Linked DNA regions of Homo sapiens. The protein of the gene in region 4 interacts with the protein of the main gene of each other region in a pairwise test. Each region holds a gene or a part of one and is shown on either strand. Other genes may lie near its edges. The genes, in order: KHNYN, TLR9, USP5 and RNF216.

What was found.
Region 1: the proteins of RNF216 (region 4) and KHNYN interact in binary tests that used the Homo sapiens proteins (3 or more experiments, as listed by UniProt).
Region 2: the proteins of RNF216 (region 4) and TLR9 interact in a two-hybrid assay, tested with the Homo sapiens proteins (one study listed by BioGRID).
Region 3: the proteins of RNF216 (region 4) and USP5 interact in binary tests that used the Homo sapiens proteins (3 or more experiments, as listed by UniProt).

Annotation. Positions count from the first base shown.
Region 1 is NC_000014.9:24,425,542-24,433,181, reverse strand, and holds the start of KHNYN (protein KHNYN), read right to left. Parts: upstream 3,229-7,640; 5' UTR 3,063-3,228; exon of another isoform or gene 2,559-3,062; intron 2,469-2,558; coding exon of another isoform or gene 2,452-2,468; coding exon 2,251-2,451; intron 1,720-2,250; coding exon 572-1,719; intron 461-571; coding exon 330-460; intron 247-329; coding exon 150-246; intron 1-149. Other genes in the region: CBLN3 (cerebellin-3 precursor), read left to right, coding at 4,128-4,427, 4,777-4,896, 5,196-5,393.
Region 2 is NC_000003.12:52,222,582-52,230,542, forward strand, and holds the start of TLR9 (toll-like receptor 9 precursor), read right to left. Parts: upstream 3,065-7,961; 5' UTR 2,949-3,064; coding exon 2,946-2,948; intron 1,732-2,945; coding exon 1-1,731. Other genes in the region: TWF2 (twinfilin-2), read right to left, coding at 6,453-6,620, 7,080-7,201, 7,339-7,489.
Region 3 is NC_000012.12:6,854,994-6,862,252, reverse strand, and holds part of USP5 (ubiquitin carboxyl-terminal hydrolase 5), read right to left. Parts: intron 6,899-7,259; exon of another isoform or gene 6,853-6,898; coding exon 6,727-6,852; intron 6,625-6,726; exon of another isoform or gene 6,499-6,624; coding exon 6,432-6,498; intron 6,237-6,431; coding exon 6,103-6,236; intron 5,949-6,102; coding exon 5,803-5,948; intron 5,547-5,802; coding exon 5,362-5,546; intron 4,625-5,361; coding exon 4,530-4,624; intron 3,830-4,529; coding exon 3,636-3,829; intron 2,784-3,635; coding exon 2,712-2,783; intron 2,103-2,711; coding exon 2,015-2,102; intron 1,888-2,014; coding exon 1,762-1,887; intron 1,301-1,761; coding exon 1,147-1,300; intron 811-1,146; coding exon 636-810; intron 1-635. UniProt on the Homo sapiens protein: Deubiquitinating enzyme that participates in a wide range of cellular processes by specifically cleaving isopeptide bonds between ubiquitin and substrate proteins or ubiquitin itself.
Region 4 is NC_000007.14:5,771,609-5,778,867, reverse strand, and holds part of RNF216 (E3 ubiquitin-protein ligase RNF216), read left to right. Parts: intron 1-204; exon of another isoform or gene 205-1,381; intron 1,382-7,259.

The DNA.
Region 1 (7,640 bases), on a different chromosome or scaffold from region 4:
CAATCATAAGGCACACAGAGGAATAACTGGCCCCTTACCCACCACCAAGGCTTAGAAACAGCGTAAACCACCAGGAGCTTTTCTCTCTCCCTCAGTCTTCCATAGGGCTCCTTCAATATCAAGCCTGGGGCCAGGAGAGGAGCAAGTACCTGTCATCATAGGAGGAGATCCTCTTGCCATCCATGACTCGTGAGGGTGTGAGGGAGAGCAGGCTGAGGGAATACAGCTTTTGCAGGAAGTGACTCTCTATTGAAAAAGAACATAATAGGGTTCTCCTCAAAGTGGAAACAGAGCCTATCCTGGGACACTGAAGACCAGGCCCAACTCACCTCTGACTTTGGCATCCTTACTGAAGCGCCACTGAGGCACAAAGACAGTTATGTCACGGTGACCACGGTCCCAGAAGTACTGCACAGCAATGGCAATGCCCCGGCTGGAGAAGTAGTGCTGGAGGCCATGCCTGTAGTGGGAGGGGGTCGGCCAGAGGAGGGGCTTGGCACCCTGGCTACAATGCCAGCCCCTCAGGACATATCCTCCCTCTCCTAGGCCCTTAGCCCCACCAGGTACTCACACCATGGCCACGTTGCTGCCGTCAATGACAATATGGCGGAGGTCTGGCTGGCCAGGCACATTGGCAAGGCACAGGGTGAAAGGATCCTGCAGGGCCTCCTTGAAACGCTGTGTGCCAGTCACCAAGTTGCCCCCTCGGGCGCCTCGTTTCCATTGAGGCCCCCGACCCCGTGCCATGCCCTGCTGCTTGTCTCCCCTGTCCCCCACGTCTCCCCGGTCTCCGCAGTCACCCCGGTCTCCACAGTGCCATGGGGGTTCCGGTGCAGGTGGAGGGCTGGGCACCCTCGGAGGAGAGGCATTCCCATTGTGGAGCCGCTGGAGGAGGGAGGCTCCTCGGGACTGAGCTGCCCTGTGACAGGAGCCATGGGCACCGGGAGGCTCACGGTGGACACAGAACCCTCCTCCTCCCAGAGCTATCTCCTCCTTCCCCAGGGCCTTCCCTTTCAGGGGTGCTGACTCCCTTGCCCCTCCACCCACTGACTGTGGCCTGAGGGCCACTTCTCTCTCCCACGCCTCTTCCCCAGGCAACTCCTTCCACCCCCAATCCATCTCCCTGGGACCACCCTGTTTCCCTCCCTCCTTCTCCACAGCGTAAGTGTCTCCCCTTGCTCCCCTGCAATCTCCGGGTCCCATAGATCCAGTGTCCAGGGACTCCCTGCCGTCACTAGGGGGAGCTCTCACTCCTTGGCACTGAGCACCCAGCAAGGCTGAGCTCCGCCCCTCCCAAGAAGCCAGTGCTCCTGGCCCCTGCCCACTAGACGCCTCCTGCACCAGACTCAGCAGCTCCTCCTGGACAGCCAGGGGCAACTGCAACAGAGCCTCTCTATGGGCATCCCCCGGGGACTGCAGCAGGGCAGAGAAGTCTCTCAGCACTCCAGTACACTGAGAGGCTCCGGAAGATGGTCCTGGCGTGAAGTCCCAGCTCAGCCGCTCTGCCAGCTCTTCTACCCGGCTCTGAGCCATGACAAAGGCTTCAGTCAGGCCACTGATCATCAGTGAGCCTGGCGCCCTGGGCACCAGATGGGCTGACGTGCTCCAGGCCAGGCAGTCAAGGAAGAAGCCCTGGGCTCCCAGAAAGATGCAGTGCAGTTTGGGCGGGTAGTGGATTTCATCCTGCAGTTCTGGGCTGCAGAGGCCCTTCAGGTACTCCTGGTTGGGAGGAAGGGAAGGTCAGGAAAAGTAAACTAACTGGCCCAGATCACCCCTCCTGGCTCCTTGCTCGCTCCTGAGCTCCAGGATGTCTGGAGTATCCACATGATGTTATTCCCATTTTAGAGATAAGGAAACTGAGACTCCCATCACAAAGCTGGTACATGATTGAGCCATCCTGGAACCCCAGCCTAATCCCAAAGGAAGCAATGTGGCCCAGCCTCCCACCCCACAGTGCATTCCTTGGTGGGGCCAACTTGTTCAGCCAGATATCTCTATTCTCCCAAAGAGCACAGAATGATTTTTGCCAGCCTGGGCCATCACAGAAGAAATTAAGCTGAAACTGAAAACAAATATAGAGTTGGAAAGTCCCTCAAAACTCAGGGGCACTGAGGTTGCCAGTGAGACAACCAAGAAGTGGAGATCCTCCCCAGGCCCCTCCTCTTCCCTGCTCTCCTCGGCCCTGCTCTCCTCCGCCCTGGGGGAAAGCGTCCTTGGTGCCTGGAGGGATGGGGGAGAGAAGGCGTTCACCTTGGCTCTGCTGGCGTTTTCCTTGGGGCCCTCCAGCTGCAGCCAGATGTGGGGGTTGTCCGGACAGTCCTTCGGAAGGACGCTCACCCCCACGCTGAAGATGCGCTCCACATGGGGCTGCTGTTCCCGAACCTTGTTCTCAGCCTCCGCAGACACCGCAAAGCGATCTGGGGACGCGGGGCGGGCCCCCCAGGTAGGCATGGCTGCTGCCCCCAGCCCTGGAAGGGGAGAAGGCAGCTCAGAGCCTCATTGTACCCTCCATCCAAATCCTGGTTCCTGGGACTACACCAGCTATCAACAGGTCGCACCTAGTTAAGGCTCTGGTAAACAGCCCCAGGAGGTGACAAGCATCTGAGTCCACTGGAGGTAGGGAGGGTGTATGTCACGCAGGCCTCTCCGGAGAGGAAGTCCCGGTAAACAAGGCTGTCTATCGAGAGTGGGCGTCTGGGCTTTGGAAAAGGATGACCACAGTCCGGAGCAAGAAGGGTGGGGGGGCTCCAGCTCGGCCTGGAGGCCAGAAGGAGTCTCCTGGGGCACTCTGAAGCTTCTTAAGGACGAATCCTCAGCAGGGGATTGAACTAGGCTGTCCTCTGGGGGCCCTGGTCTGCCATTTCCAAGGTTCAAGCCACTCCCACCCCTCCCCCAGCCGTCCGCTGCCCCTCTCCGTCGGGCCAGGAGCACCGCCCAGGGCCCAGGGGCCGGGCCGGGCCGGGCCCGCCCACCGCGGACTGGGGCAGCCACCCCGGGCCGGGCCTACTCCGCACCGCGGCCCCCGCTCCCCGCTCCCGGGCGCGGTGGAGGGGCGCGCCTACCGCCTCCGCCGCCCGCGCCGGCTTCAGGTCCTCTCAGCGCCCGCCAGGCCCCCGCTTTGCCCGCGCCCCCAGCCCAGGGGACAAGGGCAGGGGGCCCGAATCTGGGCGGGCCTTCCCGGGTTCCTCACCCAGCGGGGACCTCTCTTGTCCACATCGCACGCAAACTGTTTCTTGAGTCACTTCCTGGCCTGGGGCGGAGTCAGCCCAGCTCCTCCCGGCTGCGCGCCCTCCTCCCAACCCCGCCGCCGCGCCCAGAGGCCCCGACGGGCCCGCTCGGCCTAGTCCCCTCGGCGGCTCCAGGGCTCGCCCCTTGCGCTTCTCACCAGCCCTCCCGTCTGTCTCCCGGCCCTCAGGGTCCTCGCGCATTCTGCGCAGTTACTTCTCGGAAAGGGGAACCATGCGTTGAAAGTTGTTTCCCGCGAATAAAGATGTGGCCGACCAAAGAGGCAGCGTGACTGGCCCACTGGTGCTCTAGGCCCAAGCACTTTCCACCAAAGCAATCGTGGCGGAGGGGGTAGGCGGGAGGCGGGAGGCGGAGGGTACCCGTGGTGGAGTACCCCTTTCTTCCAACAAACGGAAAGATGCCACGAAGAAGGGCTGTTGATTTGTGGGGGATTTTGAAGAGAGGAAGAGTAGGAGGAAGGGGTTGAGGGGCTGCCTCTGGCATATGCACACACTCACACATTCTGTCACACCCGTCACACACACATACCATGTTCTCCATCCCCCCAGGTCCAGCCCTCAGTGCTGTCCCATCCAGCAGGGCTGCCCTGAAGCTCTGGCTGCAGCCCTCCCGTCCAGTGGGCAGGCGGCTTCATCCCTCCTTTCTCTCCCAAAGCCCAACTGCTGTCACTGCATGCTCTGCCAAGGAGGAGGGAACTGCAGTGACAGCAGGAGTAAGAGTGGGAGGCAGGACAGAGCTGGGACACAGGTATGGAGAGGGGGTTCAGCGAGCCTAGAGAGGGCAGACGATCAGGGTGCCGGCGGTGAGAATCCAGGGAGAGGAGCGGAAACAGAAGAGGGGCAGAAGACCGGGGCACTTGTGGGTTGCAGAGCCCCTCAGCCATGTTGGGAGCCAAGCCACACTGGCTACCAGGTCCCCTACACAGTCCCGGGCTGCCCTTGGTTCTGGTGCTTCTGGCCCTGGGGGCCGGGTGGGCCCAGGAGGGGTCAGAGCCCGTCCTGCTGGAGGGGGAGTGCCTGGTGGTCTGTGAGCCTGGCCGAGCTGCTGCAGGGGGGCCCGGGGGAGCAGCCCTGGGAGAGGCACCCCCTGGGCGAGTGGCATTTGCTGCGGTCCGAAGCCACCACCATGAGCCAGCAGGGGAAACCGGCAATGGCACCAGTGGGGCCATCTACTTCGACCAGGTAATCCCCCTACCCCTGTCCAGGGGACCTGGAAAGACCCTGCAAGGACCTGGAAGCAACTGTCCAAGCCCACTTTGCTGTCTCTGAGGCTTTAAGAAAACAGCTTCCTACATCTTTCACTAATCTGGCCTATTGCCCCACCACCCCACCGACGGTTTCCCCTCCCTCCACCCATACGCAGCCCTCTCCTTGCCCCTTCTCACCATTTCTTTTGAATCTGTTCACTCCTATTCACTCCTACTTGCCACTCCTTCTATTCATTACTCACTGCCCCTGCCCCTAGTCCCCATGGTACCCCTGAGCCATGGGCATTTCCTGAGCCCCACTCAGCAGGCTCTGCTTCCCCCAGGTCCTGGTGAACGAGGGCGGTGGCTTTGACCGGGCCTCTGGCTCCTTCGTAGCCCCTGTCCGGGGTGTCTACAGCTTCCGGTTCCATGTGGTGAAGGTGTACAACCGCCAAACTGTCCAGGTGACCTCAGCACTGGCCCCCATCCCCGGCTCAGGAGGGTGGGGAGGGGGAAGAAGGGGAGCCCAGCTGACCTCCGGGTGGACTCTCCATTGACCTGTGTCCTGGAGGCCAGGACCAGGGGAGGAATGGGCCTGCCTTGCATTGAGTGTGGAGGATGTGCAGAGTCCAATGCTGGCCGCCCCTCAGCCCTCCCGGGAGAGCCCATTAAAACCCAGCTTCCCAAGAGGAAGCTCCTGGGAAAGTGGGGGGTCCTGAGCTAAGGGCTGGGGAATGGGGGCTAACTGGGCTCCCCTCCCCAGGTGAGCCTGATGCTGAACACGTGGCCTGTCATCTCAGCCTTTGCCAATGATCCTGACGTGACCCGGGAGGCAGCCACCAGCTCTGTGCTACTGCCCTTGGACCCTGGGGACCGAGTGTCTCTGCGCCTGCGTCGGGGGAATCTACTGGGTGGTTGGAAATACTCAAGTTTCTCTGGCTTCCTCATCTTCCCTCTCTGAGGACCCAAGTCTTTCAAGCACAAGAATCCAGCCCCTGACAACTTTCTTCTGCCCTCTCTTGCCCCAGAAACAGCAGAGGCAGGAGAGAGACTCCCTCTGGCTCCTATCCCACCTCTTTGCATGGGACCCTGTGCCAAACACCCAAGTTTAAGAGAAGAGTAGAGCTGTGGCATCTCCAGACCAGGCCTTTCCACCCACCCACCCCCAGTTACCCTCCCAGCCACCTGCTGCATCTGTTCCTGCCTGCAGCCCTAGGATCAGGGCAAGGTTTGGCAAGAAGGAAGATCTGCACTACTTTGCGGCCTCTGCTCCTCCGGTTCCCCCACCCCAGCTTCCTGCTCAATGCTGATCAGGGACAGGTGGCGCAGGTGAGCCTGACAGGCCCCCACAGGAGCCCAGATGGACAAGCCTCAGCGTACCCTGCAGGCTTCTTCCTGTGAGGAAAGCCAGCATCACGGATCTCAGCCAGCACCGTCAGAAGCTGAACCAGCACCGTATGGGCTAGGGTGGGAGGCTCAGCCACAGGCAGAAGGGTGGGAAGGGCCTGGAGTCTGTGGCTGGTGAGGAAGGAAGGAGGGTGTATTGTCTAGACTGAACATGGTACACATTCTGCATGTATAGCAGAGCAGCCAGCAGGTAGCAATCCTGGCTGTCCTTCTATGCTGGATCCCAGATGGACTCTGGCCCTTACCTCCCCACCTGAGATTAGGGTGAGTGTGTTTGCTCTGGCTGAGAGCAGAGCTGAGAGCAGGTATACAGAGCTGGAAGTGGACCATGGAAAACATCGATAACCATGCATCCTCTTGCTTGGCCACCTCCTGAAACTGCTCCACCTTTGAAGTTTGAACTTTAGTCCCTCCACACTCTGACTGCTGCCTCCTTCCTCCCAGCTCTCTCACTGAGTTATCTTCACTGTACCTGTTCCAGCATATCCCCACTATCTCTCTTTCTCCTGATCTGTGCTGTCTTATTCTCCTCCTTAGGCTTCCTATTACCTGGGATTCCATGATTCATTCCTTCAGACCCTCTCCTGCCAGTATGCTAAACCCTCCCTCTCTCTTTCTTATCCCGCTGTCCCATTGGCCCAGCCTGGATGAATCTATCAATAAAACAACTAGAGAATGGTGGTCAGTGAGACACTATAGAATTACTAAGGAGAAGATGCCTCTGGAGTTTGGATCGGGTGTTACAGGTACAAGTAGGTATGTTGCAGAGGAAAATAAATATCAAACTGTATACTAAAATTACATTTTAAAAGTTGAATAATGTTTGAGTTAAATAGGAAATACCAAGGTGAATTTGTGGTTTTGAAAAGAAATAACTTTTTGAACTGTCACTAATCCTAAAAACAACATCAGGAACAATCTGATATCCATTCTTAGAAACTGGATCTTTGCTTCAGATATTAGTCACCATTAAAAAAAAATACCAAAAACCCTCAGGTTCCTTGGAGAATAGCTGCACACCTTAAGTAACTCCAGGCCCAGAACATGTTGTTGATGACAGAAAGCAAAGATACTTTTTAAATGTATAAAGTAAAGCTGAAAAGGCAAAGGAATCAATTTAAAGAAGCTCCCACTTGACATGCTTTGACAATTTGATTATCAAAAGGAAAATAATACAGTTAATTGGAACAAGGTGAATTTTTTAAATCCATGTACCTGCAATGATATTCAAAAAGGAAGAAGTCACTATAAAGTGTGACAAAAAGTAGTTAATATGCTGAGTGAAGAAGAGTGAATATAGGCTATTTTTAGTGAGTCGTGATAAGTACAAGAACATAAATATAGTAGGCATTTTGTCTATTTGCAAGGTACATTTGTTTTTCTTTATCTATGTAAGTAGGGAGGGGTGAGTACAGAGAACTGTGAATAATTCCAAGAAGATCTGGCACTGTGCCAAGAATGAAAGATACTGGTGGAACTATTTGAGTATATTTTGCAACTAAGAAGAAAAACAGTCCAATGGCGTGTTATAAGACAATGGATTAGTCAGATGTCCAAAAGACAACTGTTCACTGCTCAGGCTTGATCGTTCATCTCCTAGAAAATGGATCCTCTGTATTACCCCACTAATTATAATGAGATATTAATTAGGCAAAATGATTAAGAGTAGGTTTGGCTGTAACAGTAAAACCCAAAATAAGAATAGCTTAAACAAAATAGGAAATCATTTTTGTCTCACATAGAAAAATCTGTAAATAAGAGTCCAGGGATGGATGGCAGCCTTATGATCATTTGAAAGCCC
Region 2 (7,961 bases), on a different chromosome or scaffold from region 4:
GCGCAGGGTGCGCAGGTGAGCCACGAAGCTGAAGTTGTGGCCCACGCCCTGCATGCCAAAGGGCTGGCTGTTGTAGCTGAGGTCCAGGGCCTCCAGTCGCGGTAGCTCCGTGAATGAGTGCTCGTGGTAGAGGTCCAGCTTATTGTGGGACAGGTCTAGCACCTGCAGACCGGTCAGCGGCAGGAACTGGGAGCCATTGACTGCCTGCGAGATGCAGTTGTGGCTCAGGCGCAGGCACTGCAGGTGCGAGAGCTGGGCAAACATCTCCGGCTGCACGGTCACCAGGTTGTTCCGTGACAGATCCAAGGTGAAGTTGAGGGTGCTGCAGTTGGGCCTGAAGTCTTCAGAGCTGGGAGTGTCCACTGGGGCCGGAGCAAGGTCCCCAGGCTGCAGCCAGACCTTCTCCCCTCCATCTGCCTCCCCCATGGTGGCTGTCAGCTCCGAAGCTCCGCTGATGCGGTTGTCCGACAGGTCCACGTAGCGCAGGCCAGGGAAGGCCCTGAAGATGCCGAGCTGGGCCTGGTTGATGAAGTTCATCTGCAGACGCAGAGTCTGGAGCATGGGCAGGCGGGCCAGTGGCCGGAGCGTGGTCTCATCGAGTGAGCGGAAGAAGATGCCGTGCATGTCCAGCTCCTTCAGGGCGACCAGGCTCCCGAAGGAAGGGGCCAGAGACAGGTGGGCAAAGGACACCCTCTTTTGGTAATTGAAGGACAGGTTAAGCTTGCGCAGCTGTGTTAGGCCCTGGAAGGCCTTGGTTTTAGTGATGCATTTGTAGAGGAAGTTCTCACTCAGGTCCAGCACTCGGAGGTTTCCCAGCCCACGGAACCAACTGGCATTCAGCCAGGAGAGAGAACTGTCCTTCAACACCAGGCCTTCAAGACGGCTCAGGTGGCTGAAGGTATCGGGATGTAGCTGGGGGAAGTGACGAGGGCACTCCATGCAGGGGTTGGGAGCGTGGTCGCAGCGGCGGCAATTTCCGCCCACATCGAGCACACGCAGGGCGGTCAGATTGGCCAGGTCCTCAGGCGCCAGTTTGACGATGCGGTTGTAGGACAACAGCAGATACTCCAGGCTGGAAGGCAGGTTGCGGGGCACCACAGTGAGGTTGTTGTACTTGAGTGACAGGTGGGTGAGGTTGCCCAGGCCAAGGAGGGCACCCGGGGCCACCTCCAGTGCCTGCCTGCAGGGGTTCTTGTAATAACAGTTGCCGTCCATGAATAGGAAGCGCAGGGCATGCAGGCCGGCGAGGCTGGCAGAGTCTAGCATCAGGATGTTGGTATGGCTGAGGGACAGGGATATGAGGGATTTGGGCAGCGCAGGCACAGTCATGATGTTGTTGTAGCTCAGGTTTAGCTCTTCCAGGGTGGGCACAGCCAAGAAGGTGCTGGGCTCGATGGTCATGTGGCAGGGGAAGTGCATGGGGCTGAGGCCAACCGGCGGGCAGTTCCACTTGAGGTTGAGATGCCGCAGGCTGGGCAGGTGGGCAAAGTCAGAATCATGGAGGTGGTGGATGCGGTTGGAGGACAAGGAAAGGCTGGTGACATTGCCACGGGGTGCTGCCATGGAGAAGTGGGGCACAGACTTCAGGAACAGCCAGTTGCAGTTCACCAGGCCGTGGGGCTGGAGCTCACAGGGTAGGAAGGCAGGCAAGGTACCCAGGGCCAGGGTCATGGCCAGCATGATGGCCTGCACCAGGAGAGACAGCGGGTGCAGGGCGCTGCGGCAGAAACCCTGTGGGGGTGGGAGGGCTGTGTGAGTGGCCGGCCCCCAGCTCTACCTCCACCCACTCCACTTCATGGGCATCTTCTAGCATCTTCCAACCCCTCTCTCCAAGCCCTACCTGCAGAAGTTCTTCCTGGCTGCCAAGCCCCATTCCCATCCCCCATGGCTTGTGGGGAACCTGAACTCAGTCTCAGACCCAGTCTTGGACTCAGAATTAGGCTTCAGAACCAGGACTGAGACCTAGAATCCAGACTTATGATCTACAGCTTTCACTTAACCAATCCCTGGCTATACCAGGCCAGGCAAGGTGGCCCACGGCCCCCCCTGGTCTCTCCCCGACTTTCCCTTCCTGCTCCTGAGCAAGGTGGCAGCTGGCTCCCTCCCCTCCAGCTGCCCTGAAATCCGCTCTCTGCCCTCCACCAGCCACCCCACAACCCCTTCCTTTTCCTTCGGCCAAGATTCAGGCAGGTGTGAGAGTCTCCCACTATGGCCCAGGCCGGCTGCCTCCCAGGGACCCTGGCCAGAGGGCACTGCACAGCTCCATCACTCTCTGCCTGCCTCACCTAGCCCGAGAGCCTTTGCCTTATGGGTCAGAACAGATGGAGAGAGGGGTGGCCTGCAAAGTGCCAGACAGAGCCAGCCCCAAGCTACAGGCCCAGTGAGACCCAAACCCAGGCTCCAGCCCCAGCTCCATCAGTGCCTCAGTCTCCTCGTCCCCTCTGGGGGTTTGGGTCTCATTGCTCAGAAGAGGGCTTCAGTGGCTGGGCACGGTGGCTCACACCTGTAATCCCAGCAGTTTGGGAAGCCGAAGTGGGCAGATCACCTGAGGTCTGGAGTTCAAGACCAGCCTGACCAACATGGAGAAACCCTGGCTCTACTAAAAATACAAAATTAGCCAGGCATGGTGGCGCAAGCCATAATCCCAGCTACTTGGGAGGCTGAGGCAGGAGAATCACTTGAACCCGGGAGGTGGAGATTGCAGTGAGCTGAGATCAAGCCACTGCACTCCAGCCTGGGCAACAAGAGCGAAACTCCGTCTCAAAAAAAAAAAAAAAGAAAAAAGAAGAGGGCTTCGGCTCTGAAGTCTTCAGGATTCAGTGAGTGTCCCCAGGGCCATGTGGGTGACAACCCGTCACTGTTGCTTGCAGCTGCCAAGCCCACTTCTTTCCCCACCCCTTCCCAGGATATCCCCTTCCCCAGGGGACTGAGAGCTGTTGTCCTACCATGCTGGGGGGCAGGGGCTTCTCCAGAGGGTCTGGCGGGCAGACTGGACAGCAGCTACAGGGAAGGATGCTTCACACTCGAGGTCCCTTCCCACAGGGGCAGCAGCGGCTCAGAGAATAGAGGAAGTAAGATTTTTATACCAGCCTAGTAGCTCCCCCTCCACTCCACCCTGCCCCCAGTGAGGAGGACAGGGTCCCATGAGTCAAAGGCCATTTGCATAGTCAAATGGCAGACAGCTCCTTCACCCCTTCCTCTTTCCACTCCCCTCTCAGACAGCCTACATCCCATGAGGGCCTCACACCTGTCCTCTACCAAGCCCAGGGAGGAGCTAAGGCCCAGAGCTCAGGCAGAGAGCAGGGAGAGATGGGAATTCTGGATAGCACCAGTAGCGGGTACACCTTGCTGGGCACTCCCCATTCTAAGAGGACACTTCCACCCTCAGGTCTTGGCTCCTGCACCACAGCTGGTGCCCTCAGGACAGCGGCTGCCGACTTGTCCTTTTCTGCCCTTGTAGGCACCATCTCCAGAGTTCTGCAGGGCCTCATGCGTGGAGGGCCAGGGTGTAGCTTGAGCAGGAGGCTAGGCTGCACCTGCCTTCACCACAGCCTTGCAACATCTTCCGGAAACAAGACCTCCTCCTCCACATTCCCAGAGCCCCTGGGGCCCCATCAGAGCACACACCACGTCACTCCAGATGGGGCTCCTAGAGGCCAGGTGTGTGCTGGCCCAGCAGGGCCGCCAGCCAGTCCTCCCCATCAGTTCTTCCCACTCTCCTTCTGATCTAGGTGAGGAGACTCAGATTCCTCGGGCCCAAAGCCTTGGGTGACCCCGGGCCCCTCAGCAAGTTCTGCTGGGTCCACCATGCTGAAGGGTGTGCCCACAGCCCACCGTCCCCATGTCCACCAGCCCCCATCCTCTCTCCTAGACCCATGCAGGTGCCACCTCCCTTCTGGCTGTCCTGCCCTGCTCTCTGCCCTCCAGGGGCTGGTCACATTCAGCCCCTAGAGGGAACTGTTCAAACCTAAGTCACACTAGGTCCCTCCTCTGCTCAGACCCCTCCCTGGCTGACTCTGGAGTCAAAGCCACAGTCCACAGATGGCCAACAAGGCCCTATGGGACCTGCCACCCGCTGTTCCCCTGAGTGCTCTCCAGGCCCACTGGCCTGCTTGCAGTTGACTGTGTAGCCCCTGGGCATTCTCCTGCCTCAGGGCCTTGGGATGTGCTGTTCCCTCTGCCTGAAAACTCCCCCAAGTCTCATATGACCCCTCCTTTGCCTCCATTATGTCTCTGCTCCCATGTCACCCTCTCAACAGGGCCATCCAGCCTTCTTACAAACCTCCCACCCCAGATCTGGCACTCCTGAGCTCCTTTGCCTGGTCTATGTTTCTCTTTGTCCTAACATTTTTTAACTGCTAGCACACCGGATCATTGATCTTTCATGGTTTATTGTATATCGTCTTATTCCCCTGCTGGAATGTCAGCTTCTTAAGGGCAGTGATCTTTTATCTGCATCCCCAGGATCCAGTACAGTGCCCAGCACATAGTAAGTGCTTGATATCTGCTGAATTATGTACACCCAGCAGTCAGCTCTGGGCAGGCACAGAGAGGGTATTTCTGAGTGAAGGCTGAATGAATGAATTAATGAATTGTTGCTGCTGGGAGGAGGCAAGGCTGCACATCTGCCAGCCTGCTCCCCCCAGGCCCACTCTGGGTGGTATCATGGCAGGCAGGCTCCATAGTGCCAGGCATCTGGCTGGCTCAGCAGCAGGGGGCGATGGCATCGTCTTCCTGCCCACCTGGGAGCCAATGTTTCGGCTGGGCAAGGACAAGCCTCCTCTGGGTCTTAGCTAGTCTGGCTCTCCTCTCTACAATTCTAGGGGCTTGAGCAGGGGCTCAGAAAGGCGCCAGGGATAGAATGTTGCCCTGAGCCAGGAAGGAGAGCAGTGCCCACTCAGTAGCTGGGCTGCAGGCATCAACCCCATGCTTCCACTCCTGCCTGCCTGGGGTGGAAGGCACCTGCATTCATTCCCTCCATCCACCTCTCAGAGGGATACACCAAAGCTCGGGCTCCTGTGGAGCCCCAAGCCTGAGACTTTCCCAGAGTCCCTTGGACCAGGGACCCAGACCCCCATACCCAGCAGTGGCCCTGCCTTCTTTGGAGGCAGAAAACCAGAGAGGCCAGTAAGCTGACAGAGGGGTCTGCACACACAGGTACAGACCCACGCACATGGACACACTCAGCTTGGAGACACCGATATCGATGTCCACAGAAAAACTTGTCCTGGCCTCAGCCCAGGGAGGCTGGGAAGCCTTCGAGGAGGAGCCCTTATCCCATGTGGGAGGCTGCATAAAGTCCCTCTCAGAGATCCTTGTCCTAATTCCCCAAACCTGCAAACACGTGACCCCAACACCCCACAGTGTGGCAAAAACGACTTCGCAGATGTGATTAAGTTACCCATCTTGACAGGGGTAGGTGGTGGGGGCAGGGAGGGTGAATGCAATTACAATGTCCCTTATGAAATGGAGACAGAGGGAGATTCGACTACAAAAGGCCATGGGAGCCCAGAGGCTGAGGAAAGCAGAATCAGAGATGTCACCTCTGGCTTTGAAGGTGGAGGAAGGGGCCCCAAGCCAAGGAATACAGCCAGAAAAGGCCAGGAGATGGGTTCTTCTGAGGGGCCCAGACACAGCCAGCCCTGCCAACACCTCAACTTTGGCCCTGTGAGACCCATCTCAGTCTTCCAGCCTCCAGAACTGTAAGAGAATACATTTGAGTTTCTTCGAAGCCACTAAGTTGGTGGTAATTTGTTACGGCAGCCTCAGCAAATGACCATATGCAGATCCCTCATGTCACAGTGGAGGCGCGCCTGCCTCTCCAGCAGGGCTCCTGTTGACTGGGAGACCCGCGTGAGGCTGCACGCCCACTCACAGGCACAGCCTCTCCCACACACCTGGAGGTGGAGTGCTGGGGCTCCACCTCGCAGGCCGGCACTCCCCTCTCCCCTGTTGGGAAAGGACAGTTATATGCACAAGACTGCCCAATTCCCAGGGCCAGAGGCGGTCTCTCAGGGCCAAGCACAAGTCTTGATTTAAAAATATTTTATTCTTTAGAAAATACAGCATTCAACCATCCCAAACTGCAGTGACCCCTGCCCCAGCCCTGACTGACCCCACTTCTTGTGGCCAAAGGTTTCTGGGCTGTGCTGGGACCCTAGTCTCAGCTCCCCGGGAGGCCAGGTTCATGCCAGGCCCCTGACCCAGCCCCCTTAAGCCAGCCAGGCAGGGTCCCCGGACACCCTGGGCACACAGACGAGATGCAGGGACAGCAACAGGGAAGGGTCACAAAATGCCAGCCCGGTGGCCCTCGGACGCTGCAAGTGCGTTCAGCTGCCAGCCCTCCTGACCTCCCAGAAACACTTTCCTGGAGCCCAGGAAGGAGGATGGTGGCAGGGAGCGGAAGGTGGGCAGCCCCACAGTCCACACGTGGCCGGCCCTGCTCCAGCCTCCTAGCTGTCATCCCCATTTTCACCCGGGCCGCGGATGAGGCGCTTATGGCCCCGCTTGCCCCCTGGGCCCTTGGGCTTGGCGAAGGCCTGCTTGAAGGCGTGTTGCTTGGGGTGCACCTCGTCGTAGAGGAACTCTGCCGTCAGCTCTGCCCCATCGCCAATCTCAATCTGCATGGGGCAAGGCAGTGGTCACCCCAATGGGAGGGGCTCTGACACACACCACCCCTGGTAGCCCCCACTCCTGGGGCACCCCTTACTCTCACATCCTAGCCCTGGGGTCTCCTGAGGTCTCCCCTTGATTCCCCACCTGGAATGCCACTCCCAGGAAAGCAAGAGCTTAGGGCCTGCTGCCCTGCATGCCTTGGACTCTGCTCGCTGGGGTCACCTCCTCCCTGTCTCCAGGCCCAGGGAAAGGACATGACATGGTAGCCAGGACTTGGACTTTTCTGAGCCACCGATCAGCTGGGCAGCCTTGGGCCATGCGTGTTGCTCCTTGGGCCTCAGATGCCCTATGATCAACACGACAGCAACGATTCCTGCTCTGCCGTCATCTCAGGACCCCAGCGCCCCACATGGAGATTGGAGTGATAGGGCCTGGGGAGGTGAGGCCCTGGGGAGGGCGCCTACTTTCTTGGCGATCTCCAGATGGAAGTCCTGCTCCACGGAGTCGAGGAGGCGGCTCTTGCAGCTGGAGTAGAGCATTCGCTCCTTGATGCTGCACTTGTACCCCGGCATGGAGTAGATGAACACTGTTGGGGGGCAGGAGGTGAGCCTGGGAGGCCTGAGAAACCTGCTGACCTTCGCACCCAGAGCAGGCCTGCCCCACTGCAGACCAGCCCTGCTCCCACCCAGCCACAGGCTTGGGAGCCCTGCCATGGCCACTCACCTACAGACTCAAGGGGGTCGCCCTCATGGGTGTGCTTGTAGAGGAAGAAGTGGTAGCGGGCAGCATCTCGGGGCACCCGGGAGGGCAGCTGGGCCACATCCGTGGGCTCTGTGTGCACCAGCTCAATGGTTTCCCGCTCTAGGTCCAGCTTCTGCCCAGGGCCAAGGGAAGATGGGAGAGCACCAGGTCGGGGTGGGCCCAGGCCCCTCTCCCCAGGAAGCCCTCAAACAGGATTAGCTGGTGGGCAGGAGCCTGATGTGACCTCCCTCTCCCAAGACTCCCCTGCAATGGCCATCCCTCTATGGGGGTCCCTCTGAAGAGGCCAGTCCTGGGCCCAGCCCCAACTCTGCCCCTTTGAAGGTTGTGCTAGAGAAGGAACTCCCACCAAGGGTAGTCAACGGTAGTGACTCCTGGGACAGGATGGTGTGGAGGGTCACAACCTCAGGGAGATACTGCCACTGGGCCAGCCCATCCTCAGAGGCAAGGCCTCTGGCGGAAGCATCTTGGAAGGGAGGAGCCGTTTTGCTTGAAAGCGGCAGCCGGAACAGCCAGGGCAGAAGGACCCTGCCTAGGGAAACGGGGTGGTCAAGGAGACAACAGAGGGGATCTCTGACAGGAAGGGC
Region 3 (7,259 bases), on a different chromosome or scaffold from region 4:
GAAAAAAGCCCAGGCATGGTGGCTCATATCTGTAATTCCAGCACTTTGGGAGGCCAAGGCAGGACGACTGCTTGAGCCCAGGAGTTAAGAGACCAACCTGGGCAACATAGCAAGACCCACACGTAGGGAAAAAAACATAGCAAGACCCACACATAGAAAAAAAAAAAAAACCCACACAGAGAGGAAGAGCTGTTTCACTGGCAGGAGCAGCAAAGGGCTGGGTAGCTGACTCCCCGAGACCAAAGCCCTTTTTCAGGTCTCACACCCATGCCAGGTGCCAATGGCTAGGCTCAAAGTGTGGCTATTTGCTGGAAATCCAAATTCTGCCCACAGCTGATCCTAAGTGCCTGTGCTCAGCCATGACTGAGGGGCAATGAAGAGAGGCTACACTACAAAGAGACCCTGTGCCACAGAAGAGGGAGTGGTTGGGGCAGGACAAGGTGACAGATAGAGTCAGTACCCGTGTCCCCCCTACCAGGGCCCCTTGGTTCCATCAGGGCCAGATTACCAGCCCAACTGATTCAACCCTGAGGTTCCAACCACAAAGGGATGAAAGAACAGGGAAGAGACAGAAGTATCCTCTGGGATAGCTCTGCCATAGACCCACAGCCTCAGGCCCCGACCAGAGGACTTACTTGACAGCTACTGACTTGGCCTGCAGGGCCGTGCTCCAGAAGTCATCGACCTGCTCAGGGGCCCCGTAGGCCTCCAGGCAAGAGCTGAAGGGCACCTGGGCCCGAACCAGTTCTGGCAGTGCCATCTTCTCCTCTTCGGCTTGCCGCTTCTTCTCCTCGTACTCCAGAAGCTCCTCTGGTGACAGAATGGGTTGGTGGATCCTTCGGAGGGTGCTGCTTCTTTGCCTCCTTAGCCTCTCCCTACTGGCTCTGTGTCCGTATTTCAGTTCCTCTACCCTTCCAAAGCACCCCTGACACATGTCCAATATATCTCGCCTGTTTCCATGCAGCTCTGCTAACAAGCTGAGTGTCCACTGGACGAGGTTAATCTACCTACTCCTGGTGGCCCAGACTGGAACCTTGGCTGGTGAAGCAGGGCATTCCCTGGGCTGTGCTCCCATGAGGTGCCCAAGCATTCCTCCTAGACCTTAGCCTCCCACCGTGCCACGGCCTTGCTGATGGAGCAGCCTACCTTTGTTAAGGGCTGCATCCATGGGCACAGGCAGCTGCATGATGTAGTCAACTCGCTGGGTGTACTTCACCTTCTCTGTGGCCAGGCACTTGATCTTTTCCTCCACCAAGAAGCGGAACACTTCATTAGGATTTTCAGAGCTCCGGCAATTCCTCTATGGGAAAGAGGCAGGGTAGGGAGGTCTGGGCAGCCAGGGAACAGAATGGGGCCTGAAAGGTTCATGGGAGAGTCAGGGAGAGAAGGCAGACTACCACTCGGAACTCAGGGACACAAGAGCAGAGCAGAAACCTTCCCTAATTCACCAACCCCTCCCCATTTCTGGCCCCATCCCTGCACTGAGGGACTGTGTTAGAACACGCTTGTATTTTTCTTTATAAGCAGCAAGTATTCTCTTATCATTGTCTTTGGGCATAATCTGAATTGGGCTTCAAGCCCATCAAGGGTAGGGATCATCACCTTCACTGTCCTCCTCAGGTGCAAGCACTGTTCACAGGGACACAGACTGTTGGGGTTCAGGGATGGGACTGGGTTGGGGCTGATAGAGGGAGAAATGGGCAGGAAGGAGAGCGAGTAAATTGCAGGAAGATGGGGGTGTGCCATCTTGCCAGCCCTTACCTCCACCATGTTGATAAGGTGAAGGAAGAACTCCTGGGCATCCTGCTGCCGGTTGGTGGAGAATTCAGGGTGGCCCTTGCCGATGAGGGCCTTGAACATCCGAGGGGCAATGCCATCTTGAACTTCCTGGGAAGAGTCAGGGCAGGGACTCAGCTGGGGCTCAGTGGCCATCCAGGGGCCTTCTTTAGACATCTCCCAGACCTCAGCTTCCCCACAATCCCAGGGCCTGAAAGGGACAGGGTCCTAGACGCACCTTCTGTTCTGGCACCCGCTCCCCATCGCCCGACTCCGGTACTGGCTTGGAATACTCCCCGGAGAGAAGGCCATGGCCCAGCTTGGCCCTGCATTAATATCCAAGAAAACATTTCACTTCAGTCAACTAACGACCCTGTGTGTCCCCAGCTCAACCCCCTGCTCGTGGCTCTCCCTAGCTAACTCTCAACAACGTGAAAAACCTTAGATTCTACAGGAACCCAGCTCAAGACAGACAACACGTCCAGAAGACAGTCACCCGAATGCTCCTAATAGGCCAGTGGTGGCCGTGCACGGTGGCTCACGCCTGTAATCCCAGCACTTTGGGAGGCCGAGGTGGGCAGACCACGAGGTCAGGAGATCGAGACCATCCTGGCCAACATGATGAAACCCCGTCTCTACTAAAAATACAAAAAAAATTTAGCTGGGCGTGGTGGCATGTGCCTGTAGTCCTAGCTACTCAGGAGACTGAGGCAGGAGAATCACTTGAACCCAGGAGGCAGAGGTTGTAGTGAGCCGAGATCGCGCCACTGCACTCCAGCCTGGCAACAGAACAAGACTCCGTCTCAAAAAACAAAACAAAACAAAACAAAAAAAGGCCAGGGGTTAAAGTGCTGTGCCCCCCAGGCGGTCAGGGAGGAGGAAGGTATACGGCCATGACTGTCAACAGCTTTCCTACATAGGACCTGGTTACATACACCTGGGTGCTGAAATCCTGGGTAGGGTCCGTCGGGGCATTCTGGAAGATCTTCTCCAGCTTATCCACATACCTAAAAGTCAAGGGAAGGACAGTTGGAGGGGCTCTGGCCTGAGCGCCGAGGAAAAGGGAAGGAAGCAAACATTTACTAACTCTGTGAACGGGCTCCCCTCAAGAGTGGGGAGTTGCTGTGGGTGAACCTTGGAGTCGCTTCTCTCCAGCAACCTGCCTGTTCTCCCCTTCTCAGCTATGTCCAATGTGCAAGCACGCTCGGCGGCAGAGGAGCCGGGGAGGGGGAAGGTAGCCTGGGATTAGGATAAGTGCAGTTCACGTTCTATTGGACAGAACCTGTTGACATGTTCTGAGCATTCACATTCTAATTGTTCCCCAAATTCGAAAGTAAACTCATTTCTGCTGAGAACCTGCCTTTATTCTTAGTGTGCCAAGCCCCCCTCCTCCCCAAGTGCTACATGTCCATGTTAGGTGCTCATCTGATGTCACTGCCCTAAAATAAAGACCACCTGCTAACCCTTGAGTCTGTCAGAAGGCCACAGAGCCCTGGGACTTGGCACTCTGCACTATCAGTGGGGTTTGTGTGTTGGGGTGCTGGTGGTGCAGCTCCCTAACTTGCTCCCCTCACAGCATGTCAGCCAGAGTGTGACAGGAATTATTCTTTTTTTTTTTTAAGAGAAGACAGGGTCTCGCTATGTTGCCCAGGCTGGTCTCAACCTCCTGGGCTCAAGCAATTCTCCCATCTTGGCCTCCCGAAGTACTGGGATTACGGGTGTGGGCCAACACACCCAGCCGATAGGAACTACTCTAAGACTAGAATCAAACACAGAGGTGCTGAGGGAAGCTGAAGGAGGAGTATGCCCAGAGGGTGCTGACCAGGAGGGGGCCTGGGGAAGGAGAGGGCACTACTCACTTCCTCTGGAAGTCAGGGATGCTGAAGAGCACCTGGACCACAGAGTTGAGGTAGCAGCTGTTACCCAGGTTCCGGATGCCTGTGTAGCCAGGCCCAAACAGGGGCTTGAGTGGCACACCTGACTCCTGGATCAGCTCCCATTCACCAATCCGCTGGTTCATGTCTATCTCCAACTCAGTCATCGTCTTGTCTGTCTGTGTGAGAAGGGGCACTTCAGACTGAGTGAGAAACTCAACCCTGTAGTTTTTACCTCGATCTCTCACTGAGTCTAGGATGATACTCAACTGTGGCCTAGAATTTGTGGAATTACAGGCTCAAACATGGGAGGTATGTTGAGTATCGTCCAGTTCAAGTTCTGGAAGGCCACACATAATTGTCCCAGAGGCCCGTTAGTCATCAGGGCCTCTGCTTGAATGAGGAATAAAATTTCCTTCTACCTGAAATGTTTTTCCCATCCTTAAGTTACCCCTAACCTCCTTCACATTGTCAGTTAAGCATCGCTTCCTCAGGGAAATGTCCCTGATCCCTAAACTAGGCCAGGCCACCCTGCTGTCAATTACTGTAGTACCCTCCGCCTCTCTTTCACAGTGCCCACCAGTTTGCAACTATTCACTTATTTATCTGGGAATGTGACTAATGTCTGCCTTTTCTTCTAGAGTAGAACTCTTGTAAGCAAAAACCACATCTGTCTTATTCACACAGCCTCTAGCACATAGTAGGTACTCAGTACTATTCACTGAATAAATGATTTTAGATATTTAAAAGAAGCCTGTGTATCTTGGGGATGGGGTTAACTAGAAGATTTCTCCAAAACCCTACCTCAGCCTCAGGCAAAGAGGAAGGGCCCTCACAGGGGCAGGAAGTAGAAGAATCTGAAGTTGAAGGGGGTCTCACCTTCTGCATCTTCAGCATGTCGATGCCGAAGTGGGACAGGTGCTCAGCCAGGCTGGGGTCCAGGACCATGTCATCCTCATCATATGAGTACACGTCTAGAGCAGGAGGCAGGAAGAGAATCAGGGGAAGTGGCTCAGGACTAGCCAGGCCACCATCCCATCCCTTGCACAGAAGGGACTTGAGGGGACAGAAGGAGAGCCAGTAAGGTCCACCCTCTTGGTTCCCTTGAATATGAGTAATATGAGTGCGGTCATGGCCCTTCTGGGGCTGACGGTCAGGGAAGACAGATGAAACCGGGTGAGGGTTGGAATTACTTGTGATTCTGATTCTACCTGTATAGGATAAGGTAAGACAGGCTTGGTAGGAAAGGGATGAGGATTTGAGTGGGGAGTAATCAAAAATTTAGTCTCATCTGCAGTATTTTCCTTTTTTGAGACAGGGTCTCTGTAGCCCAGGCTGGAGTCCAGTGGTGCAATCATAGCTCACTGCAGCCTCAACCTCCCGGGTGCTCAAACAATCCTCCTGCCTCAGCCTCCTGAGTAGGTGAGACTACAGGCAGGAGCTACCACACCCAGCCAATTTTTCTTTTTTTTTCTTTTTTGGAGAGATGAGGTCTCACTATGTTGCCCAGGCTGGTCTCGAACTCCTAGGCTCAAGCAATTCTCCTGCCTTGGCCTCCCAAAGTGTTGGGATTGCAAACATGAGCCACCGCACCTGACTACTTTCCTTTCTTATCAAGATAATGCATTCATGTATTATACATGTCACACGAAATTACTAACAAATGAAATATATTTAAGCATGAGAGTGGCTGGAGGAGGGGAGGCTGTACCAGCTCCATCAGGGGTGATGGTGCCCAGCTTGACAGCTAACGGGTAGCCTGTCTCTCGGTAGTGCTCCACAGCGTGGTTGTTGCCCCCACTGCCATCGAAGTAGCGTCGCCCACAGAGGATGGAGCCATCAGTCAGGTTGAGCCACAGGTTCTCTCTCATGTCACACTTGGAGCACTTCCAGCCACTAACCCACAGAGAAGAGAATCAGCAGAAATGTGGGTCGGGGATTTGAGGGAGTGGCAGAGAGAGAGGGCTCTGCAGGCCCCCCGCCAATCCAAGGTCTCTCTCTCTTCTCCTCTGGCCATCCCCATGTCGTGTTCATTTCCAAGCTTCCCTTCCTGTCCTGCTCCCTACCCTCTCTCCCACCAGATCCCCCAGAAAAGTGGGCTCCTTGTCCTTGCTCTGGGGGTGGTGCCCGAGGCAGAGGGGCCAGGCCTCACCAGGGAGGGATTCGAGCAGGGTTGTCCAACTGCTTGAGGCTGAAGGCATGCTTAGACACCTGCCGTACTTCCCCATCCCATGCCTGCACCTCCTGCTTGCGGGAGGCTGAGTCGGCCGACAGTAGGGCCTCCACTGCACTGGTCACCTGGGGGAAGCAGAGGGTCAGAGGCAATACCCAACCCCCTGCCCCACATGCCCCTCTTCCCCTTGGCCTTCAGCTTTGTCAGTGCTTGCCTAAGACACCACTACCCTGGCCCATCTTGCTCTAGAATCTTGGGTAGCATAGGGGGCAGTCATACCCGATCTCTGACAATGTCAGGCAGTCCCCCCAGTCCATCCCGGGCAATCTCCAGGTAATCTGGCAAAATGACAATCTTCACATCCTCGTCTAATTCAAACTTCTCCTCGCTAAGGTCAAATCCGCCTTCAACACCTGGAAGGATAGGGAAGAAGAGGGAGAGTAGAGCAATGACAACAGGTCAATGTCCCTCCTCCGAGCCAGCACCTCACTTGCCCCATCCAGAGTTCTAGGGCCATCAATCAGGCCCACTCTTTGGGGCTTTCCTGGTGCTGCTGAGAGCCAGAAAGACCAGCTCAGGGAGAAGAATAGGACTGCAGCGGTGCTCACCAATAGCCAGCCGCGTGGGCTTCTTCCGGGGTGGGTCTCCAGTGCCTGTAGCAGGGTCCTCCTCTTTCTGTAAAGAAGCAGGAAGGGCTGGATCAGCAATGAGCACGAGCGAAGGAACAAGTCGGGAGGAGGGACGGAAGGAGGTAGTGCTTCATCTCAGAACGGAATAAAGCTAAAAAACATCTGTGCCAAGCTTTAATGACACAAAAGTAGGTGAAAAAAAGAAACTGAGTCCAATAGGAGGTCAGAATGGAACAGACAATGTACCCAGGCCTTGCCCCAGCCCTGCTCCTACCGGGCGCCGGGTCCGCCGGAGGTGCAAGTAGACTCGCTGGCCGGTCTTATTGAAATGTCTCTCCACATACTGTTTCCCAAAGCCCAGAAACGTGTTCATACAGATGTAGAGGCCCCCCTCAGACTCCTGTGGGACAAGAGGTAAGGGTGAAAACACGAGGATGTTATGAAGCCTGGTCAGGTGAGGAAACCAAAACCTGGAGTCAGAAACTGCTGGGTTCCAGAAGAAATGTTCTGTTCTCTAACACTGTGTGGCCCTTGGCAAGTTATTTAGCCTTTTAGGACCTGGGACATAGCTAAGATTCTCCCCATTTCCTCCCATGACTTTGATAACAACCAACAAGGACATCAGGGGGCTGAGGAACACCAGCTCATCGTCGCCATTCAACAGCAACACCAGTCACCATTTATCTTTCCACCTGCTCCTTCTTGGGCTTTGGAGCTCTTTAATCAATCACAGAGGACTTCCTTCACCTCTATCCTGGGGCTAACAGATCCAGAAAGTAAATGGGGATCAAATACTGTGGACTTCCA
Region 4 (7,259 bases):
GGAGGCTGAGGCAGGAGAATCACATGAACTCGGGAGGCGGAGGTTGCAGTGATCCGAGATTGTGCCACTGCACTCCAGCCTGGGTGACAGAGCGAGACTCCGTCTCAAAAATAATAATAATTTTAAAAAAAGAAACTGAGGTGCTGAAAAATATCTAGTCCCAAAACTTGTAAGGGTCAGCGTGGAACTTGAACTCAGTTTGGACCCAGAGTTCATGCCACTAATTATCCTTCTATAATTAGTGAGTGCTATTTATTCTGAAAGTACATCTACTATTGAAGATCATCTACTGTGCCATCCGATATGCTATGTCCTGGGGCTTTGGGATCAAGTGACACTTTGGTTCTGCCTTCTTGGAACTTAAGTTTTAGCAGAGGAGACCAAAATTACACATAGTTTCCTAAATAAGTATATTAAAGTATTGTTGGAAGTACTTTGAAGAAATGAGGTACGTTGTGTGATTGAACCAGGGAGGAACATCTAGGGGATAATCAGGAACAATTTTTCTCTGAGGAGAAAGCAAAGAACCGAACAATGAATAGAGTTAATTTGGTCCAAGAGGCAGTGAAGAAGAGTAGTTTAGCTGGGGAAGAGCCTGCAGTGGAAGGAAGGAGCAAGTCATGGAACTGAACCATTGTTACTACTGAATGGTGAATGCGGGGGGAAAAGGTATGAGGTAAGGCCCGCTATGTCAGCAAGGTCAGGTGATGGTAGCGTTTTGTAGGCCATGGTAAGGATTTCGGTTTCACCATGGTGAGATTTGTGGTTTAAAAGAAATAACTCAAATGCCGTATGAAAACATGTCAAGGGATGGAGCCTGCAAGGCAGTACTTGGGCTAGAAGCAGAAGCATGTCCTTTGGTCACAGAAGATTCAGTTCTAAAAAGATCGTTGAAAACGTTGATTTTACCCTCCACACATGAGGATGTACTTACTTATCTGTCCTAGTTTCTAAACTAATTTTCATTGGACAGTTGAAGAAAATCTTGATGTTTTATGTTAAATTGTTTAGCCCGCCCACTGAAGATTTTGAGTTTAATTTTTGATTTAAAACCTTTCCTATTGTAAAAATACACAGATAATAGGATTCTTAGAGCTGTTAAACTCTAGACTAATTGTTTGCATATTTATATCCATAATGATGGATGTTATTTTACCATATTTTGTCCACATATTAAAGTTAACACAATTTTCGTTTTCTTTCTCTGAACTCATCATCTGCTTTGTTCTTCCTTAATAGCATCACCATCCTGTGGTCACCTGATCTCAGCGTCTAGGTCAACTTTGATTCCTTTCTTCTTGCCCTGATGGCCAGTGACATACACAGATCCCATCGACTCTAACTCTGCAGTCAGTGTCTTGTATTCTTCTCCTCCCCCTAGGTACTGTTGGCTCTTGTTTCCTGGCACCGGTTGTCTCCTACATGCCATCTTACACATTGCAGCCAGGTTGATTTTTCTAAAGCACAGCTGTCATTGCATTGCTTCCCATTGGCTAGAAAATAAAATCTGAGCTCTGTTTCAGTTATCTGTTGATGTATAACAAACCACCCTAATACTTACTGCTTCATAGAATAATTTTGTTTGTTGACAGTTTTATGAATCAGGAGAATTGAGAAGTGCTCACCTGGGCCATTTTTCTCTGGTCGACATGTTGTCAGCAGAGGTGGCCAGTGCTGGAGCATCCGCTTCCACAATGTCTTCTTCGTTCACATGCCTTGTCAAAGACTGCTGGAAGGCCGGGCTCCACTGGCTCTTTCCCTCCACGTGTAGTGTCAGGTCTTTCTGTGTGATCTCTCAGCAGGGTATTCAGACTTTTTACCTGATGACTCTGGGCCCAGGAGCCCTAAGTGAAAGCTGTTGTGCTCACTCGCTCTTTCTCTTCCTTTCTTTCACTTTCTTTTTCTTTCTTTCTTTCTTTTTTTCTCTCTCTCTCTCTTTTTCTCTCTCTCTTTTTTTTTTTTTTTTTTGGACAGAGTCTCCCTCTGTCGCACAGGCTGGAGTGCAGTGGCACAATATCAGCTCACTGCAACCTCCTCCTCCCAGGTTCAAGCCATTCTTGTGCCTCAGCCTCCAGAGTAACAGGGATTACAGGCATGAGCCACCACACCCAGCTAATTTTTGTATTTTTTTAGTAGAGTCAGGGGCTGCTGTGCTTTTAAAGGATAAACCCAGATCTGACACGTCTCTCACTTTAGCTTGATATGGCTATTCCTGTGAAACCTTCACTGACTACCTGCCCTTCCCCTATAGTCTTTTTTTTTTTTTTTTTTTTGAGACGGAGTCTTGCTCTGTCGCCCAGGCTAGAGTGCAGTGGCCCGATCTTAGCTCACTGCAAGCTCCGCCTCCCGGGTTCTCGCCATTCTCCTGCCTCAGCCTCCTGAGTAGCTAGGACTACAGGCGCCCGCCACCACGCCTGGCTAATTTTTTTGTGCTTTTTTTTTTTTTTAAGTAGAGACGGGGTTTCACCGTGTTAGCCAGGATGGTCTCCGTCTCCTGACCTCGTGATCCGCCCGCCTTGGCCTCCCAAAGTGCTGGGATTACAGGCTTGAGCCACCGTGCCCGGCTATAGTCTCTTTATTACACTAGTGACTTTATTCTCTGATTGATGGGACTCTGAGTTCTTTGAGACAAAATCCATTTGAGAGTTTGTTTTGATGTATTCCCGATGATGCATAACCAATTCTTGTTACATAAAATGCTGTAGCAGTACAGTCAGCTCTCCATATCCACAGCTTTCACATATGGATATGGAGAGCTAACAGTAAACTTTTTCTGTATTGATTTAATATTAATTGTATTAGTACAGACTTACAAAAGGATGGATATCCAAAGAATGGTTAGGATGAGCAACTGGTATTTGAATGAAAAACAATCGTTTATAGACATTTTTAAAAACATGCTGGGAAGAGGTATTGTGGAGGCCTGGTGTGACACGGGCATGTCATCTTCTTCCAGCCTGTGCCTAGCTCTGCTTTGCCCACTTTTTCTTTTTTTTTTTGAGATGGAATCTCGCTCTGTCACCCAGGCAGGAGTGCAGTGGCGCATTCTAGGCTCACTGCAAGCTTTGCATCCCGGGTTCAAGCATTTCTCCTGCCTCAGCCTCCCGAGTAGCTGGGACTACAGGTGCCTGCAACCACGCCTGGCTAGTTTTTGTATTTTTAGTAGAGACAGGTTTTACCGTGTTGGCCAGGCTGGTCTTGAACTCCTGACCTCAAATAATCCACTCACCTCGGCCTCTCAAAGTTTTGGGATTACAGGTGTGAGCCACTGCACCTGGCCTGCTTTGCCCACTTTTTGCTGGGAAGTCAAAGGGATTAACTCATTAAATTTGAAAGTCTTTAGTGACCCCCAAATCTGTTGCAGAAGTGGCAGGCATATTTACAGGAAGTATTCTGGAGAGCCAGGGGCACTACAGAGCCCTAGGATCATACAGTAGTAGTTTAGGAGCATATACATAAGGAAAAATGGAGAAGCAGCATGAATAGAACAAGGAGAAAAAAATGATTTGTAGAAGACAGCCTCAAGCATTCTGGTCACGAGGAAGTGAAGGTGAGATTTTGAAAACCAGAAAATTGGGTGAGAGAACCGTGAGCGATTCTCTTTTCTTCCTGACTTCCTTTGTTTCCCATATTTTCTGTAATGGGCAATACTTGATAACTGAAGAAAATCCTAATTGTTGTTGCCTAGGCCATGTTTCCTGACTCTGGTTCTATGGCCATGGTGAATAACAGCTCCAGTCTTTGACAGAGGAAGAAGTTTTTGGAGCCACTCGTTCAACAACTGTGCTAGGCATTGGAAATACAACTATAAGTAAGAAAAGAGGCCAGGCACAGTGACTTACGACTGTAATCTCACCACTTTGGTGAGTGTCGGGGGGGTGGATCACCTGAGGTCGGCATTTCAAGACCAACCTAAGATGGCGAAACCTCATCTCTACTAAAAATATAAAATTAGCTGGGCATGGTGGCAACATGCCTGTAACTTGGGAGGCTGAGACAGGAGAATCACTTGAACTCTGGAGGGGATGTTGCAGTGAACTGAGATTGCACCATTGCACTCCAGCCTGGGCAACAAGAGCAAAACTTCGTCTCAATAAAAAAAAAAAAAGTAACTTGGAATGGGAAAATAAAGATTTTTTCCCCCCTTGAACTGTATTTTATTAATAAGCACTGCATTTCCTGTGTACTTGTGATTACAATGCAGCTATTTTGATGGTATTTACCATATACAAAGTGGCTTCTCATTTTTCAACATAGCCTTGTAATGTAAGAATAGCTATTTTGATTTTTCTGTTTCGCAGGTAACAGTTAATAAAAATAGCACAATGTCACACTTAGTATATATCAGGCACTGTGCTAAAACTTCATGTAATTCAACTGATTTAGTTTTTAAAAAGTTTTTATTTTTTAAAATTAATGAATTTTTTTGGAGGTAGGTTCTCCCTCTGCCGCCTATGCTGGAGTGCAATGGTGCTATCATAGCTTACTTGCAGCATTGAACTCCTGGGCTCAAAGGATTCTCTTGCTTCAGCAACCACAGTAAAGCTGGGACTTGGGCACATGCCACTCTACCTACCCGCAACTAATTTTAAAACAACTGTATTCTCATTTTACAAATGAGGAAATTGGCCTAGGAGATTGAACAATTTATCTGGAGCCACCGATTGACTAAATGGGAAACCAAGATTTAAACATAGGCAGTATTATCCGAAGCCCAGATTAAAAGACTTGAGTGTCAGAGAGTTAAATGACCTGATACAGAGACTTACATTTAGTTAAGAGTAGAAATTCCATCATCAGAATTCTTTTCTTCTCACAGGTTGGGGCCACTGGTGTGCCACTCATGAGGAATTTTTTGAACCGTTACTAGCAGTCTGCTTAACTACAAGCCTGACATTTCAACTAAATTAGCTGTAAAAATGACTCACATCTCCCTTTGATTTTCAGTGTAAAATTGAAGGAAGCCAGTTGTGGTCAAAGAAAAAATAAGAAATTTGGCTTGGGGCCAGGCACGGTGACTCGCCTGTTATCCCAGGACTTTGGGAGGCTGAGGCAGGCAGATCACTGAAGTCAGGAGTTCAAGATCAGCCTGGCCAACATGACAAAACCACTTCTCTACTAAAAATACAAAAATTAACCAGCATGGTGGCACGCATGTGTCGTCCCAGCTACTCAGGGAGGCTGAGGCAGGAGAATCGCTTGAACCTGGGAGACGGAGGTTGCAGTGAGCTGAGATCGTGCCACTGCACTCCAGCCTGGGTGACAAAGCAAGATTCCGTCTCAAAATTTGGCTTGAAAATAGTGTTCAAAATACTTTTTAAAAATCTGGCTGGGTGTGGTGGCTCACTCCTGTAATCTCAGCACTTTGGGAGACCAAGGCGGGGAAATCACGAGGTCAGGAGTTTGAAACCAGCCTGGCCAACATGGTGAAACATTGTCTCTACTAAAAATACAAAAAACTAGCTTGTTTGGTGGCGGGCACCCTTAATCCCAGCTATTCTGGAGGTTGAGGCAGAAGAATCGCTTGAACCCAGGAGGTGGAGGTTGCAGTGAGCTGAGATTGCACCACTGCACTCCAGCCCAGGTGACAGTGGGAGACTCTGTCTCAAAAAAAAAAAAAATCTTATTTGGGGAAAAAAAAGGACTTGATTAGATGCAGTTCAAATTTGATACCAGAGCTGTTCTTTTAAATACCATGCTACTTATTAATAACATCAATATCATTATTTCAAATGAGAGACCCAAACTTACGCTGATATATGTCAGTTTTAAAAGTGGGAATACCTGGGGCCAGGCATGGTGGCTCATGCCTGTAATCCCACCACTGTGGGAGGCTGAGGCGTGTGGATCACCAGAGGTCAGTAGTTCGAGACTAGCCTGGCCAACATGGTGAAACCCTGTGTCTACTAAAAAATACAAAAATTAGCCAGACATGGTGGCGCATGCCTGTAATCCCAGCTACTCGGGAGGGTGAGGCAGGAGAATTGCTTGAACCCGGGATGCAGAGGGTTGCAGTGAGCCGAGATCGTGCCATTGCACTCTAGCCTGGATGACAAGAGCGAAACTCTGTCTCAAAAAAAAAAAAAAAAAAAGGAATATCTTTTTTCAGTTATCAATGCTAGAAATTTCTGTTGTAAAACTTTGCTAACCTGGTTTTGATATCTGTATATTTTGATAGTATCTATAACTTCACATTCTATAAGTTGAGAAAATGCTGATATTATTTGACTATTAACTCTTTGTAGACATTTAATGAGAAGCCCCGATCTGGGGCTTACTGCCTCTGAGGCACAGTGGTTTCTCCCAGGAAGGCAAAGAAAATTGAGATTTTCTCAGAGAGGAAGGAAAGGATTGAATCGCTTAAACCTGGGAGATGGAAGTTGCAGTAAGCCGAGATCGCACCACTGCACTCCAGCCTGGGTGACACAGCAAGAAGCACATTTAAATCTTGTGTTTATAGTAATTTGGTGTTTGTGGAGATTCTTTCTTGTCTAGTTTTTTTGTAACTGTTGTCCATGGAATTTTTTCTGTTACTATGTAAGAATTTGAGGAGATTCAAAGACTATTCTGCTGTTACTACTACTGTCTTCCCAGAATTTCCTTGTGGTTTTATTTTATTTTACTTTATTTTATTGGGACGGAGTTTCACTCTTGTTGCCCAGGCTGGAGTGCAATGGCTTGATCTCGGCTCACCGCAACCTCCACCTCCCGGGTTCAAACGATTCTCCTGCCTCAGCGTCCTGAGTAGCTGGGATTACAGGCATGGGCCACCATGCCCAGCTAATTTTGTATTTTTAGTAGAGACAGGGTTTCTCCATGTTGGTCAGGCTGGTCTCGAACTCCTGAGCTCAGGTGATCCACCCGCCTCGGCCTTCCAAAGTGCTGGGATTACAGGCGTGAGCCACCACGCCCGGCCCCTTGTGGTTTTAGTTTACATTTCTCTGATGTCTCATAATGTTGGACACTTTTTCATTTATTTATTGGCCTTTTGCGTTTCCTCGGGGTACTCAGCCGTTGTTAATTCAAATTGTTTGCCCCATTTTTCCTTTGGGCAGATGTTTTTTGGTGGGGGGACAGGGTTTCACTCCCATTGCCCAGGCTGGAATGCAGTGGCGGGATCACAGCCTACTGCAACCTCCACCTCTCGAGCTCAAGAGATCTTCCCACCTCAGCCTCCTGAGTAGCTGGGACTAGGTGCCCGCTACTGCGCCTGGCTAAATTTTTTTGCTTTTTTTGTAGAAATGGGTTTTGCCATGTTG